Linked DNA regions of Homo sapiens: region 2 is linked to region 1. The links come from fine-mapping of genetic effects on gene expression. Tissue or cell type: whole blood. Region 1 holds a variant in brackets; the other region holds the start of a gene. All regions are shown on one strand. Distances are from middle to middle.

Region 1 (4,167 bases):
TGTCTGGAGGCACGTGGGTGGTGTGCGGGCCCTCACTGGCCAGCCTCTGGGTGGCCCCGCCTATCCCAGTATGAACGTAGCCAACTCAAGCCCTCTACTGTGTCTCCTGCAGGGAGAGGGAGGCCTCGGCACCTCAGCCCACAAGGAGAAAACAGCCCCTGTCCGGGTCCCTCCAGAGCTCCCTTCCCCAGGGCCACGCCTCACCTCGAGGCTGATACTCACAGCCCACGAAGCCTTTGTAGCCTTCATCTTCCAGCAGTTGAAACAGATAGGGGAAATTCAGCTCTCCGGGGCTGCTGGGCTCCCCTCGGCCTGGGACCTGTGCCACCTGCACATGCCCTGGGGACAGATGTGGACAAATGTGGGGTCCAGGCTCCTGCCAGGGCCTGAAGGACAGATGTGGGGATTGAAAGGGTGGGAGGGCAAAGGAAGGTCCTCTCACCAACAATGGGCAGGAACTCCCGGATGTTTCCTGTCAGGTTCCCATCCATGATCTGCCAGTGGAATATGTCCTAGGGAAGAGGATACTACATTCCGAGACCCCGCAGGCCCCGCCCTCCTTCCGATCTGCGAAGTACCCCCTTCCACTTACCATTTGTAATTGGAGGTTGGGTCTTCCTACCTTCTGTAAGATGGCTGCCGCTGTAAGAGAAGCCAGGGAGGGGACCGTGAGCCTCAAGAGCACAGGAATCAAAAGGGACAGAAGGAGAGACAGGGCTGGGGTCGTACCCTGCTGGGGCGTGTCCAGGAAGTACTGGGGGTCAGTGATGCGGGTGTTGATGGGCTCCAGCAGTCCCACGAGGTCCTCCTAGCAGCATGTCGGGTGCTGTGAATAGAGCTCCTTCCCAAGTTTGTCCCCCATCAGTCAGTCACTGGTCAAGGCCCTCACCTGTTCCTCTGACCTAGGCTGGCAGCCTCACGTGCTGTCCCCACTGTGCACCCCCTTCTCCGCACACCCACAGAGACATGTAAGTACGTGTGTGTTTCCACCTTTCTCACCTGAGCCAAAACCCCAGCTGCATGCCTCAGGTTCTCCAGAAAAACGGCCTCCATCTCAGCCTTGACTGCTATTCGATCAGCTCCCTGGGGTACTCGGCCAGCCATCAGGTGGATCCTGTGGGGAAGATGGACTGGAGGCCTTGCCTCCCTTGGCTCTCTCTGCACCTCTTCCAGGATTCCCTGACTGTGCCAGCCCTCGTCCGTCTCCCCAGGTCTCCAGTCCATGGCACCTGGGTCACGATGCCCAGGTATCCCAGCACTTTCAGAGACACTTCAGTGATGGCTGAGGGGCAAGCCCTTTCCCAGACATCTCAGTGTCCACCCACCGCCTCCTGCCTCCAGTACTTTCCAAAACCTTTCCTTCCCTCGGTCCTTCTCCGCAACCTGTAACCTGCTAAATTCTCACCTTTAAAAATTGTCCTGACCTTTGCTTGCCCTTCTCAGGTATTCCATGCTGCTGTCTCTACTTCCTCTCCTCGCATCTACTTAGCCTTTTCCCATCTGTTTTCTGCCCCCACCATTGACCAGTAGTGATCCCCTCTTGCCAGTTCCTTCTGAGCCTGTTTGGCCTCTGCAGGATTTGACATTTGAATCAGCCCCACTTTGAGCCGTCCACCTCCTCCCATCATCCCCTGATCTTAGCCACATCCAGCTCCAAGCAGACATTCCAGGCCTCCCCATCCCAACAGGCTACATACATGTCCAGCCTCAGGAACGCTGCCAAATACACCAGGCCTCCTCTTGCCACAGCACCCTTGCAAGGAACACTCAACTTCCTGCCCATCAAGCAATGCCCACTCCTTGAAGACAGTCCAAGCATCACTACCTGTAAGCAGCTTTCTCTGATCCAGACAGGGTTAGGTGCCTACCCTGCTCCCACAGCTTCCTGGAATAGGCCTGTCCTCAAATGCATCACTGTATATATTTACTCTCCTATCTGCCTAGGCAGACTGAGCTCCCAGCATGGGATCCCAGCATGGGGTGAGCATGAAAGAGTGGCAAACAGAGTGGCATAAGACAGATAAAATACAAAAGGCAATTTACAAAGGACCAGGACCGCAGAGGCAGAGATAAACCAGTGGGCTCAGACTTCTGAGCGTCTCAGATCTGGCGTCCTCGACTCCCTGAACCTGCATCAGGGTCATGGGTCACAGGGGTGGGGGTGGGGTGGAGCGGGGTACCTGGGACAGCCCAGGGCTTTGGCA[T/C]ACCGCACGGCCTGCTCCAGTCCCTCTCGGAAGGCCGCCTGTCTCCCGGGGACGGCCCCCAGCCCCATTTCCCCCTTCTCTTGGTCTCCTGCAGAGAGAACGGGCCTCAGCCCCCGGCTCGGACACTCCCCTGCCCGCGCCCCGGCACCCCCCAGCCCTCCCAGCCCTCCCGGCCCGCGACGCACCCGGGGGCGTGTTGATCAGTACAAGCCGCAGCCCCGCTTCTCGCGCGGCGCGCGCCAGCGCCTCAGGCGTCTCCGCGTACGGCCAGGCCACCTCGACGGCCTCGAAGCCCGAGCTGCCCGCGGCCCGCACCCGCGCGGGGAGGCCGGAGAGCTCGGGGAATAGCCAGGACAGATTGGCGGAGAAGCGCAGCGGCGCCATGCCTGGGGAGGCCGGGCCGGGCGGAGTCCGCGGGATCCAAAGGCGGCGGGCGGCGGGCGGCGGGCGGCGGGCGGGGGCGGGGCTCTCCTTGCTGGCCCTGCGAACGAACGAGCACTGTTCGTGGTTAGAAAAGCGAAGTGCTGTAAAAACCCGGGCCTTCACGAAAAGCGCCTACGGTTAGCGAGAGAGGGATCACGGGGAGAGGCGAAGGGGCGGAGCGAGGGCGGCCGGAAAAGGAGCAGGACCCGCGCCTGGAGAAGGTAGGGAGGCCGAGCTCCAGGGCCTGAGAGCCGGACGCGAAGCAAGAGAGAGCTGGCTGCCCGAGGGCCCGGTTGCAATGATGGGACGCGCACTTTAATACTGAGTCTTTCCTCTGATTATAAAAATGCTATCTGTTCGTTAAGCAACATTTGAAAGCTGTATGACCAAATAAAGAAGCACTTTTATACCGCCAGTTATCACACCACTAGCCTGTTGGCTTTCCCGTCCAAATTTTAAAATATGCAATTTTTTTCTTTGGAAATTCTGATCATTCGGTATATGCTGTTTTATAGCTCTTTTTCATGGAATATTATTTTGTGAGCATTTCCTCGTGTTTTCCAATAGCCTTCAAAGTCAGTGCCTTCGCTGCTCATTGTCGCACACCTAAGCAGCAAGTCATTATTGTACTTTGTGGTTGGATATCGTGTGTGTGCACGCGCGCTGCAAGCGCACTTTCAGGCACTTCTTAGTCCCTATCTCTGACTCTTTTCCGAGTCTTTTTCTAGAGATGTCCATCACAGTGTTTGCCCGTTCACGCCGCTAGTCTTTTGCAAGGGAAACCGCCCCATTGGAGCAGCTATGGGTGAGCTGTCCCTTTTTAGCCTTAGCCTCAGCTGATTGGACCAGGGAGGTCATCTGATCCCAGGGCAGCCAATCCATAGACTGGCCAAAAACCTCTTACTTGCGTCGTTTGGAAAGGTAATTTAACCAATCAAGAGTTCAAACAAGGAAATGCTGAGAGTCAACAGGTGGTGTTGCCAGAAGGTGACTGGGCTGTAGAAACGAAATAAGACAGTCCTATGGTAAAGAAAAGCTAGAGCGGAAAGGAGGGGAACCAAGTCCTGTGAATAGAGGTAGCACCCTGAGAAACCCATGTCATCCCAAGGGTGCCCAAACCCATAGCTGCCCCCAGGTCTGTGCACTTAAGGCTGGGATGCTTAGACTTTCCTGGGTTTCTGTCTCTGTATAGCCTCTTAATGTTTCTTGAGATAATTTGAATGATTTTACTTTCATCTACAATAACCCAACTGATTGGGCAGGTTCTTATGGGTAGAATTACATGGTCAAAAATAGGAACATATTTAAGTTGTTGATATCTTAAATTTCCTTTGAAAAATATAAATTTATATCCCAACAATTCATGAGTAAACGTCATCTTGATCTATCGTCTGTGCTAACTTTGACAGAGAAGCTTAAAGTGCAACATTAGGAACACCCAGCTCCCACTGATTGTTCTGTCAACACTCAACTCCATCTCAAATGAGGCCAGCTCAGACACCAGGGATCCAGCCTGATCCCGTGGTGAACCCAAATTCTT
Region 2 (6,399 bases), 84 kb before region 1:
CCACACCTTACTCTCCTCTCCTCTCCACAGTTTTACTTCCTGGCCTCCCTTCCCCTCTTCCTCCACAAGATAACTCTCAATTCCAGGTCTCTTACTGGAGAATCTTACCTTCTCACCAACAGGGAGCTCTTGAACTCCGTCTCCCTTCCTCACCCGAGTCCCTCACCTCCCCAGCTCTGGGTCTTTCTTCTCTCCAGGGATTCTCCCCTTCAATCTCTCCTCTCCTGCCCTCTCCTCTTCCCATCCCTCTGGACCCTTCCTGAACTCTCTTCTCCCCAGGGTCCCTCCTGTCCCTGCCAGGACTCTCACCTCTCTGGGCCCTTCTGTCCCTCCAGAACCTTATCCTCGGATTCCTCCTTGCCTGTGCTGGGACACTTATGTCCCTACGATTCTCCTCTGCCTTTCCTGGGACTCTCACCTCCAGCCTCTCCTCTCCAGCGCTCTCCTCTCTCCTCTCGCAGAGCCCTTCCTCTCCTGGAGCCTGGCTCTTTGAGACTCCTGCCCCGGCGGCTCCACCTGTCTGACTAGATCTGGCAGCAGCCCCGCCCTCTGCCCGCCCCTGCTGTACTGTGCAGGGGGTGGAGGGTGGGTCCGGGCCACAGGTCAGTGCCTGGGGGAGCAGGACCCACCAGGATTGGGAAAGCCAAGTAAAGCCCCAGACTCGCCACCCACCCACCCACGTGGGACCAGCCTGATGAGCTAAGGTCCTAGATTCTGAGCCAGAAACCTCCTCTGACCCCAGCCCCAGCCCCAGCCCTGGCCCAAAGCACTGCTGAAAATCCACACCCAGCATCCTCTCCTAAGCCGGCCATAACTGCTCAGTTTGTCCTACTTCAGAATGGGTACAATCACTCTTCCCTTCCTGGGAAGGGCAGGGAAGCCAGTGGCATGTGAAGGGGTTGGGGAGTGGGGGAGGTCGCAGGAATCTTCCCCTCCCTCAGGGAGGGGCCCCGTTGGGCTAGGCCCCCTCCCCCTCAGGGCCTGAAGGAATGTCGGGGGAAGGCTCCCAGGGACACAAAAGCCTCTGGCCAGACCCAGGAGAGCATGGTACTGACAGTCCCTGAGGGACAAGGCATTCTTGGAACAGAGCAGGGCCCAGGGCAGCAGGTGCCCCAGACTCCCTGCTTCCAGAGAAGCACCTCTGCAGATGCCAAGTGAAGAGGCGCACCTCTGACACCTCCCTGCCCCGCACACCCCTCACCTCCAGGAGGCCCGGCTTCTTTAGGCCCACCGTGGTCAGGCCCCAAGCCTGCGGTCCACACCCACCTCTCACCTAGCTCTCCACCCCCAACAGCGAAGGTGCCACGCCGAGGGCTGGCACACACGTCTCCTGCCTGACACACCACGCAACACCTCCGTGGGCTGACACGCATGGCTCCCGGCCCTCACGCAGCTCGGCCACCGCCCAGGCACACGCACGGGCTCACCCGCGGGGCCACTCACACACGTGTGCGCGCTGCCTGGCCACGCTCGGATCCCCTCCTTACTTGCTCCCCCACCATCGGGCTTGCTGGCCGCCCATCGCCGGCAGGGCCCAGGCCGGGGCGAGGGCGCCAACACAGGTTCCTCCCTGACACATGGGAGCCAGCCAGCCTGTTATCTCTCAACCACCAGCCCCCAATATCAACCCACACACCCGGCAGGCCAGGAGGGACCAAGGCTCCTGGGAGGACCTCTCCCCAAGCTGCAGGAAAATCTGGGTGTGTCTCTCGTCGGGGAACTCAGCCCGTCCCTTCCTTCCTTTAAGATGGATGGAAGGGAAAAGGTGCCTGGCAAAGTTAGGGTAGCGGGGGGAGGGAGGGGAGAGGAGGAGGGAGAGAGGTAAATGCAGGGGTGGTGGAGGAAGGCCCGGGTGTAGGCAAATGGGGGCCAGAGACGGGGGTGTGGGGGAGGGAGGGTGCTGGCGAGGCCCGGCCCCAGGGAGCTGGGACCTCCCACCCACTGGCCCCGGGAACACCCTCGCCCACAGCCTGGGCAGGGCAGGGCAGGGCTGGGCCGGGCTGGGCCGGGCTGGCCAGGCAGGGGGCGCCGGCACGTGGAGAGTCCGTGGAAGGTCCAGACTCACCCGTAGGGGCCAGGCGGGCAACGGCGGAGCGCTCGGAGGGAGCAGGGCCAGAGAGAAGTCCCCGGGGCCAGCCTGCCTGCCTGCCACTTCCTCATCTGCTGGGCCGACTTTCTGTCACCAGAGGGGGAGGGGCGGGCCGCGCGGGGGGCGCCCGCTGATTGGGCGGCCGGCAGGGCCGGAGGCCGGCAGCGCAGGCTCGGCCGGGGCGGGGGCAGGGGCGTGCCGCCGGGTCCCAGCAGGAAGCGCCGCGGCCCGGGCTTCCCACCCCTTCCCTCGCCGCCCGGGCCCGCCCTGGCCAGTTGCAGCGGCCTGGCCACCTCAGGAGCACGCTGTCTCTTCCCGACGTGCAGCCCGGGGCCCGGCCCTGTCCCCGGGTGACTGCTCCCCGGCAGGACTGCACATCTGTGGCGGCAGGCCCAGCTCAGGGCTCGGGGGAGGTTCGGCCTTGCCTTCAAAGAGCTCCCTCTCCTGCAGGGCGAGCGCAGAGCGGCGGGCGAGACCACACTGCGTGTGCTGAGGGCGCACTGGTCTTAGCGGGAGGGAAGCCTCACGAGCCTGTACACTTGGAGGAGCCCTAAGCGTTAGGATCTGCTGCGAGGGCTGCCTGGAACGGAGGTGAGAGGATACAAGTGGCCCGGGGCAAGCATAGTGAATCACTGGCTAATCTGGCCTTCGAGGTAGTGAAAGGAAAAAAGGGAAATGAAGCTGACTGTGGCTGAATGTAGTAGGTCTTGAAGGCCAAATGGGGCGATCTGATTTTTATTCTAGAAGCAGAGGAGAAACTAAAGATTTTTTTAGGAGACTATATTCAAGCTTGTATCATTAGTTCATCAGACGTTTATGGACCACCCACCGTCCGTGCACTCACGGGGCTTGCAGTCTATCTGGCTGAATCACTTTGGCAGCCAGTGTGAGGAGGGCACAGAAAGGAGACCAGGTGAGAAAGCCAGCCTGACCAAAGAAGATGTGGCAACTGATGGGATTGGAGGAGGCGGACAATGTCCTCCAGACAGCTGGACTGGCTCTCTATATATTTATTTATCTCTTCTACACCTCCAGCCCCCACCTCCACACTCACTAACTGGACTCAACTAGTGGGGGCAAAGGACAGACTAGATTTTAGTGAAATGGAATTTCTACCTCCAGCGGCCCCTGGAACAGTAGCACACAACGATCTAACAACTGCTTGTATGATTGGATGGTGTAAGTGCGGACAGAATTAGGGAATTTGGGCTACTCTGGGCACACTGCTTATGGGGCAGCCCTGCTCCGCAAGGAAAATAAACACATTTTTTTAAAAAAAGGCCGGGCGCGGTGGCTCACGCCTGTAATCCCAGCACTTTGGGAGGCCAAGGCAGGCGGATCACGAGGTCAGGAGATCGAGACCATCCTGGCTAACACGGTGAAACCCCATCTCTACTAAAAATACAAAAAATTAGCCGGGCGTGGTGGCGGGCGTCTGTAGTCCCAGCTACTCGGGAGACTGAGACAGAATGGTGTGAACCCGGGAGGCAGAGCTTGCAGTGAGCCGAGATCGCACCACTGCACTCCAGCCTGAGCAATAGAGCAAGACTCTGTCTCAAAAAAAAAAAAAAAAAAAAAAAAAAGGCCGGGTGCGTTGGCTCACGCCTGTAATCCCAGCACTTTGGGAGGCTGAGGCGGGCAGATCACCTGAGGTCAGGAGTTTGAGAACAGCCTGGCCAACATGGTGAAACCCCGTCTCTACTGAAAATACAAAAATTAGCCAGGCATGGTGGCGCAAGCCTGTAATCCCAGCTACTCGGGAGGCTGAGGCAGAAGAATTGCTTGAACCTGGGAGGCGGAGGTTGCAGTGAGCCGAGATCAAGCCACTGCACTCCAGCCTGGAGTGCAGGGCAAGACTCCGTCTCAAAAAAAAAAAAAAAAGGGAATTCGGAGACCAGCCTGGGCAACACAGTGAAACCCCATCTCTACTAAAATACATTTAAAAAAAAATTAGCTGGGCATGGTGGTGTGCGCCTGTTGTCCCAGCTACTTGGGAGGCTGAGGCAGGAGAATTGCTTGAACCTGGGAGGCAGAGGGTGCAGTAAGCCGAGATCATGCCACTGCACTACAGCCTGGGCAACAGAGCAAGACTCGTCTCCAGAAAAAAAAAAAAAAAAAAAAAAGATGTTCATAAATGGTAGGATAGGCTGGGGATGGAGGCTCACACCTGTAATCCTAGCACTTTGTAAGGCTGAGGCAGGCAGATCACTTGAGCTCACAAGTTCGAGCCTGGGCAACATCGTGAGACCCCGGCTCTACAAAAAATACAAAAAATCAGCTGGGCATGGTGATGCATGCCTATAGTCCCAGCTACTCTGGAGGCTGAGGTGGGAGGATGACTTGAGCCCAGGAAGTGGAGGTTGCAGTAAGCCAAGACTGCGCCACTGCACTCCAGTCTGAGTGATAGAAACCTTGTCTCTAAATAAATAAATAAATAAATAAATAACTCCACAAATGGTGGGATATAGCTATGTGAAAGTTTAGTCCTAGAGTTTAGGTAAGAGGTCTGAGCCAAAGTACAGATATGACCCAGCCTATTAGTACCCATCCTTGAAAGGAAATGGCAGAATTCACTGTTTAAAAGGCTCCAACACTAAGGTCCTAACTGATCTGGTCCCTGCCTTGTCCTCTCATTCTACCTGTGACACTCTCCTGGGCCCCACCCAGTGCTTTAACCATTCCCCGAGGATGTCAGCATCTTTCATACCCCCCTCAACCCTCAAACCTTGCCCCCTGGCTCAGCACAAGGAACAGTCAGGTCTCCTAGGCAGTAAATCACTCCCTCCTCTTGCTCCCACAATTGTAATTATATGCTTATCTGCATCGCAAAACTATAAGCTCCTCTCAGCATGGGCCATGTTTTGTCATCTCTGTATCTCCAGCATCTGGCCCGTTATCTGGTACTCAGTTGGCCCTCTACCTTTGTTGAATGAATGTTAGTGTGAATGGGATGACGTGGGAAAGGAAGAGAGGCCAAGGGAACCAGAGTCAAGTGGAGAGGACAATAAGAATTAGAAAGCCTTTCCATTTCCCTTGGGAACAGTATCACTGAGTCCATAAATATTTATTGAAAGCCTGTGTTCCAGGTATACTCTAATGACTTCAGGTTCACACCTGACTCCAAAGCCATGAGTTTAAATGTTCCAATTAGTACCTGTGTGACCTTATGTAAGTTGCTGAACCTCTATAAAATTGGAGCAATAAGAGTTCCTATCTCATAGGATTGCTGTAAAGACTGAAAGAGATAACACATGTAAGGTGTTCAGCACTGTTTCTGTCTCAACATTTAATGGACAAGGTGGGAAAGTGCCCAAAGTATCAGGAAGGTACATACTTATATGTAGATTCATGAGCATTCTTTTAATAATCTTTCCTAAACAGTTACTGTGTGCAAACCACTGTTGTGAGAGCACTATTGAGAGATTTTGGATTAAATGTCCATCATAAGAGTGCACTAGAGACAAAGCAGACTATTATAGATGATGAAACTGTCCCAGAGGCCAAACACAGCAGTGATAGGAAACTTCAACTGTGTTTTTATTTACCTGGACCACATTTGTAAATGACCATGGCAGGCCCTCAATAAATGCTGACTGACTACATGAATGAACATGCTCAAAGACAGTTGTTCAGCTCTTGTCCCAGGTTCTATCATACCCCTCTCCCCCTTCCTGAGTTTCTTTTGTTCAGTTTGGCAAACAGTGAATGGATGTTTGCCAAATATTTGAGGATGCTCAAATATCTGATATAGACCACTTAGCCCCAAATCCTACCAAATGGCATCTTCATGGCCCTGGGGTTCCTGCAAAACACTCAGTCTGATGGAAAAGACAGACATATAGATGAGCAATTATATATGTGGTGAGTGTTCCCATAGAGATAAACCCAGAGGGTTATGAAAGCACTGGGGTGCGGGGGCACCTTAACTCAGTATGGAGGCTAATTCTTAAAGGTGATGCAAAAATGACACTTAATTGAGCATTAAAGGTCACTTTCTAGGCCGCGTAAGGTGGCTCATGCCTGTAATCCCAGCACTTTAGGAGGCTGAGGTCGGTGGATCACCTGAGGTCAGGAGTTCGAGACCAGACTGGCCAACATGGTGAAACCCTGTCTCTACTAAAAAATACACAAAAATTAGCCAGGCCTGGTGGCAGGCGCCTGAAATTCCAGCTACTCAGGAGGCTGAGGCAGGAGAACCACTTGAAGGCAGGAGGCGGAGGTTGCAGTGAGCTGAGGTTGTACCACTGCACTCCAGCCTGGGCGACAAGAGCGAGACTCCATCTCAAAAAAAAAAAAAAGAAAGAAAAAAA

Evidence for each region. PIP is the estimated chance that this variant, and not a neighbour inherited with it, causes the effect.
Region 2: it holds the start of ELOVL1, and the variant in region 1 is fine-mapped to the expression of ELOVL1 in whole blood (TOPMed, PIP above 0.99).

The regions. Positions count from the first base shown.
Region 1 is chr1:43,451,206-43,455,372 of GRCh38, forward strand. SZT2 (SZT2 subunit of KICSTOR complex) reads left to right here. Exons shown (of 72, transcript NM_001365999.1): 72 at 1-3,042. HYI (hydroxypyruvate isomerase (putative)) reads right to left here and starts at 2,726. Exons shown (of 8, transcript NM_001190880.3): 1 at 2,390-2,726; 2 at 2,181-2,292; 3 at 1,000-1,114; 4 at 730-808; 5 at 593-642; 6 at 443-512; 7 at 205-339; 8 at 1-106. The coding sequence starts at 2,588. The coding sequence ends at 33. It overlaps HYI-AS1 (HYI antisense RNA 1), which reads left to right and starts at 2,722. Exons shown (of 2, transcript NR_174945.1): 1 at 2,722-2,848. RefSeq lists enhancers at 1-615, 616-1,502 and silencers at 2,293-2,352, 2,463-2,762. The variant T/C (reference allele first, on the strand shown) is at 2,205.
Region 2 is chr1:43,365,850-43,372,248 of GRCh38, forward strand. It overlaps ELOVL1 (ELOVL fatty acid elongase 1), which reads right to left and starts at 2,162. Exons shown (of 8, transcript NM_022821.4): 1 at 2,066-2,162. LOC112268225 (a long non-coding RNA gene) reads left to right here and starts at 2,363. Exons shown (of 2, transcript XR_007066049.1): 1 at 2,363-6,399. RefSeq lists silencers at 462-551, 1,812-2,491, 3,431-3,616 and enhancers at 869-1,603, 1,604-2,338, 2,932-3,011.